2 separate regions of the Homo sapiens genome follow, and region 1 is linked to region 2. Evidence: fine-mapped expression QTL. A gene starts in region 2. The other region holds a variant in brackets. All regions are shown on one strand. Distances are between the middles of the regions.

Region 1 (2,921 bases), 42 kb after region 2:
CCTAATGCTATCCGTCCCCCCTCCCCCACCCCACAACAGTCCCCAGTGTGCGATGTTCCCCTTCCCTTCTCTTATCTTATCACTCTGACCTCTTCTGCCTCCTTTCTCTACTTTTAAGGACCCTTGTGATTAGATTGGGTCCACCTAAATAATCCAGGATAATCTCTTTATTTTAAGGTTAGCTGATTAGCAACCTCAATTCCATCTGTAACCTTAATTTCTTTTTTGCCATGTAACCTAACATAGTCACAGGCCCAAGGGAATAATAGGATGTGGGAATTGCGGGTGGTGGAGTAGGGGCATTATTCTGCTTACCACAGGGGACCTTGGATGTCAGTAAAAAATGGTGAGGAAGAAAACAGGAAACGTAGAATAATCTAAACAAATCTTTGAAAAATAAGTCGAAATGTGGGGTTAGAAAAAGGGCAGAACTAAAATGTTAAGACAAATTAAAATGTTAAGCCTATAAGTTGAGAGGGAGATGATCAAGGTTAAAAATACTCATAAATCATATTTTTTTGGGTAGGGGGTTAGATATTTATTAATTTTAGACCCTGAGAAGTAAAATAGTCATGACAAAAATTTAATAGTAACCACTAAAACAAGAGAAACAGAGTATATAACTTCTAAATCAATATGGGAAGGGGAATGGAATAAGAAAACAATAGCAACCACCAACACCCCACCCAAAATAAATAATAAGGTGAGAGAGAAAAAGAAGCATTGAAAAGGGGCTAAAATAAAATAAAAAATTAAGTCATGCCCGTAATCCCAGCACTTTGAGAGGCCAAGATGGGTGGATCACCTGAGGTCAGGAGTTCGAGACCAGCCTGACCAACATGGGGAAACCCCATCTCTACTAAAAATTCAAAATTAGCTGGGTGTGGGGGTGCATGCCTGTAATCCCAGCTACTCTGGAGGCTGAGGCAGGAGAATCGCTTGAACCCAGGAGGCAGAGGTTGTGGTGAGCAGAGATTGTGCCATTGCATTCCAGCCTGGGCAGCAAGAGCGAAACGCCATCTAAAAAAAAAAAAAAAAAAATTAAGATAGTAAAACAAATCCAAATACATTAAAGATTACAAAAAATGAAAATGAACTAAACTTCCTAGTTGAAAGACATATTGTCAGATTGGATTTTAAAATCTGGCAATGATATTTCCAGGACACAGTCCTAAAATATTAAACACAGAAAAGTTGAAAGTAAAGGGATGGAAGAACACAGTCAAACTAACTAGAAGAGAGCTGGGTTCACCCTTTTATATCAGAGCAGAATTTCACTGAGAAAACACTAACAGGAAGGGGGAAAGGCACAACATAGTGA[T/C]GAAGCACTTAATTCTCAACAAATGTATGACACTTCTAAACTATTATGACTGCAAAAAAAAAAAAAACCTCAGCATATATAAAATTTTGGAAGAGCCATGGCTATCAGCTGACATGCACTTACCATATTTGCATTGTCCTACTACAAACTTTACCCATATGACCAAGGTGCTGTCTTCATCCCCATTTTACAGATGGGGAAATTTCCCCATAGAGAAAAAGATTTGGGCCATGCCTTGGTTTCTTCTTGACTCTGCTTCCTGCTGATTGATCCTCACACCTCACCTGGAGACCTACTTCACATTATCCATCAGGATGAGAACTGGTGTGCCTTTACCAAAGGACCACAGTCACCTTCAAAACGTGTTTAGATAGATCTGGATGGAGACTTATGTGGTTGCAGATGAAAAAAAAGTCCCCATGGTATATCTGACTCCATGTCATTCACTGCATGAACACTCACACACATGCACACGTACACAGGCAAACACAATCCTGTTCTGGTCCGGCAGTAGTGCCAACACTCAAATCCCAGGTCCTACTCTGAAGCCTTTGAGGAAACCATTGTCATTCTGGGGTTTATGGGAATATTTCTTCTTGGTGCCCCTTGTTCCTCACAGAAGCTTTTTTTCTGTGCTGTGGGCTTGCTATCCTAGCTTTCCAAGCTATCCTAGTTTTGCAAATTTCTCTGATCAATCACATCAGGTTCTTGGATCATCCCAAAATTAAAGAGGTACGTTTTGCTGCAAGAGACAAAGACATTCACCTCTCACACAGTTTGAATTCCTGGGTAGAAACAGATTTCAATGCTGGCCAGCCTCTGTAGCTCCCAGTGCCCCCTCAATTATGACTCCCGAGGCATTGGAGCAGGATCCTCACCTTGCGCAAAGATAATTAGGTGTGCTGAAGAAAGCCAGACACTGCTCTTTCTTAGCTCTGCATCCTTAAAAAGTTACCACTACTCCTTCTCTTTGAACCTTTGACTTGTCAATGGTAAAGTGCCTATGATTCTTAAAGGGATAAAAACGCAACCTATATAAAGCACCTGGCATAGTGCCTGGCACAGGTGGGTGTTTAACAAATGTTAACTCCTTTCTATCCCACTGTGGGTGTCCATATCCTCTTGGGTAGGCTGCCTCTGGTTTCCATTGTGTCATCAGAGCCATACTAAATCGATGTGTTGGACATGGATCCCAAGAACTAATTTCTGGAATGAGTTATGCCTACCAACTTCCCTGATACTTACTTCTGTCTCTCCATTTATCAAATGGAAATGTTTGCATTTGGCCTCTGCCAGTTGGAGTAACCAAAAGGCTTAGAGGTTTTGGAGAGGTCCTACACTGCCATCTGTTTGACCACATACTGCCTTTCACGTGTAATAAGCATTGTTTCTTACATTTGTCTAGGAATTAGCAGTTCACAAAGCACATTCGCATATAAGGGCTTGTTTTGAATTGATCTTGGCAGCAATTCTATGAGACAAGTAAAAGGTAGGTCAAGCATTATAATCCTCATTTTAAATCTGGGAAAACTGAATCTCAAAAAGGTTGAAAGACTTGTCTAGGGGACAGTGTGTGGGTAAATGAGAAGTTAAGATTTGC
Region 2 (2,921 bases):
ATTCCATGTCTATGAGATGGAGTTTCACTCTGTCGCCCAGGCTGGAGTACAGTGGTGCCATCTTGGCCCACTGCAACCTCTGCCTCCCAGGTTCCAGTGATTCCCCTGCCTCAGCCTCCTAAGTAGCTGGGCCTACAGGTGCATGCCACCATGCCTGGCTAATTTTTCTATTTTTAGTAGACACGAGGTTTCACCATGTTGGCCAGGCTGGTTTGAACTCCTGACCTCAAGGGATCTGCCTGCCTTAGCCTCCCAAAGTGTTGGGATACAGGCATGAGCCACCATGCCTGGCCTAAAGTCCTTTCAATTCTAAGATTTTTTTTTTGCCCAAGGAGCTTATCTGCCACTATTGTTTCCAACATGTCCTTGGCCCACAGCTTAGAGAGTCTGGTCTTCTTAATTATCTTTTCAAGTGTTTATGACTTAGTTCCTCAGCTAGACTGTGAAACTACTTAACAACAAGGACTGTGTATTGAATGTCTGTGTCACACAGCAGTGTAAATGCTGGGTAAACACTCATTGGTTGCCTGACATAGTAACTCATGCTTTAAGCCTTCCCATAGAAGGGTGAGAGATTGGGAGAGTGGAAGAAGAATGATCACTGGCCTTAGAAAGCAGAAATCTGGTCCCATTTCTGCCCATCTTTTCTCATTTCTCATCCTGCAGGCATCTGAGTCTTAGACCCACCTATCCCACTTCCTCAAGAAGCCCTTGGTGGAACTTTGCAAATGACCAAAGAGGGAGAATTATAATAAGGTTGTTAGTTTCCAGAGAACATTACACCTAAGCTTCTCCACGCTTGTAATGGAGGGATGGATGGATGGATGGATGGATGGATGGATGAATGGATGGATGAAAGGGTGGACAGAAGGGTGGATGGATGGGCACATGGGTGGATGGATGGTTGGATGGATGATGGATGGATGGAAGAATGGACAGATGGGTAGATAGATGGACAGATGGGTGGCCGGGTGGATGGATGGATGGATGGACTGAGTCAAGTAATGTCAATTAGAGACCTGAGTGTTCTTTCCTCTGTGCTCTACTCACACTATCATATTTCCTAGCAGTCCATGGCACATGATGTCTGCTCAGTCTCAGGGTGAATCTGAGGTCAATATCTTTGCAGTTGGGTTTCCCTAGATGTTCTGTCCCATCAAGCTGGTACCAACTAATTAAACCCACTGAAAAGCAGAGACTCCCTTCTCGTCTTTCCAAACAGAGTCACACTCACAGTGCTATCAGCCCCTTCTCTTATTCTGGCTGTCTGGCCACAGCCTGGATTCCGGCATCAGAATTTGTTCTGTCCTTGGGCTTGCCAGACATACTTTCTCTTGTATTCACCACCTCTTCAAGCCTAGGATGGAGCCCCACGGGGCACCAAAGATGTCTGACCCCAGCACTGTTTATCTGGCTGCAAACCCACTAATAACATAGTCAACGACAGTCAGTACAGAGCAGGGGCCCCATACCTTATTTCTGCCAAGGCTTTATGGATGACTCTCTCCCCCTTCAACAAATGCTCCTTAATGTTCCCACCATCTTATTATTCATGCTGTACCAAAGACATTGTGAAATGCCCAGGCTCTTCTTCCTTCATGTCCTGCAGCCAATTATAGAGATTGGTGCAGGCCTGACCCACCTGTACCAGACGGTATAAACACAGCGCAATGCCCTGGAGAAATCAGTTGGAGTCTCCAGGGATCAGGGTTCCAGGAACTCAGGATCTGCAGGTCAGTGATGGACAGGCAATATTCTCTCTCTCTTTTCTTTCTTTTCTACTCTCTCCTGTCAATATCTCTGGTATGCCCTCTATCCCTTCACTCCTCCTGGCAAGCTGTCTAGGTAACAAGGTAGTCCCCTCATATGACATGATGGGACATCAAAAACATTTAGGAGCACATAAAGAGATTTGAGGAGAAGGAATAGGTTAAGCCAAATCAAGATTTCTGAACTACTTAGAACAACTGACTTTAGAAAGTAATCTCAAAAGAAACCATCTGGGCCAATGGTATTCAAACCGTGTTTGGTGGAAGCTTAAGAGATTTTTTGTTTTCGTTTTTTTTTTTTTTGTGCTCCTTGGTAGCTCCTCAGTGTCTTCTTTGTAGGCAAGAGAAATACTAGCAGGGTTCCAAAGTCTCCATTGCTTCCTGTGTCAGCAAAGCAGCTGCCCTTTATCCTTTTTACAATCATTAGAATTCTGCATAAAATTTTATTGTGAAACTTAAAACAGTTTTGAAAGATACCTTACTCAATCTTTCCATCCAATGTTGATAAGTTGAAGGCCCAGGGATAAAAGGTGGCAAAATAAATTGGTAGCAGAGCTAGGTCTAGGACTCAGCCTTTCTATTCAAAGTCTGCTCTGTGTGTTTCTATGTCCTGGCCACAAGGACCAGGGTAGTTCAATTAGGGTGGTTGGAGAGAGCTTCAAGTGAGCTGTAAGCCATGCTTCATGACTTCAAGATCTTATAAACTTTTATAAGGGAAACAAATATCTTTATGTACAACAATAAATAATACAGTAAAATTTAATAGGAGTTCAGAGTAGAGTTACAATAGTAAGGGAAAGATTCATTAAACTCTGAGTCATGGAATTATAAATAGTTTGGCCTAGAAAGAACCTTCATAACCACATAATCTAATCCCATGAATGTATAGTGCTGAAACTGAGGGTTGGAGGTTAAAAGACATAACCCTGTATGTCTAAGCTGTAACTCTACACTGGTAATTAATTTGATAGAACTAGATACTGAACCCATCTATACTGATACTATCTCCAGTGATCTTAATATCAAAAGATCTGAATGGATGACAATGAGAAGGGATGACTTTTGAGGCAGGGAGAACAATGGGACACCTGTGAGTACGTCCACTGAGAAGATAAGAAAGGAATTATGTCGCCAGGAGGTGTGGTTTAGTGT

Which allele goes with the higher level. Positions count from the first base shown, and alleles are read on the strand shown. Sizes are in standard deviations (SD) of each study's normalised expression.
In carriers of allele C in region 1, the expression in sun-exposed skin of the gene that starts at base 1,687 in region 2 tends to be lower than with T alone (small effect, 0.23 SD a copy in GTEx).

What was found. PIP is the estimated chance that this variant, and not a neighbour inherited with it, causes the effect.
Region 1: its variant is fine-mapped to the expression of IL1F10 in sun-exposed skin (GTEx, PIP above 0.99).

Annotation. Positions count from the first base shown.
Region 1 is chr2:113,108,390-113,111,310 of GRCh38, forward strand. It overlaps a transcript of IL1RN not described here. Among named protein-coding and RNA genes, the nearest start is that of IL1RN, 18 kb to the right of the region's middle. The variant T/C (reference allele first, on the strand shown) is at 1,322.
Region 2 is chr2:113,066,284-113,069,204 of GRCh38, forward strand. It overlaps IL1F10 (interleukin 1 family member 10), which reads left to right and starts at 1,687. Exons shown (of 5, transcript NM_173161.3): 1 at 1,687-1,733.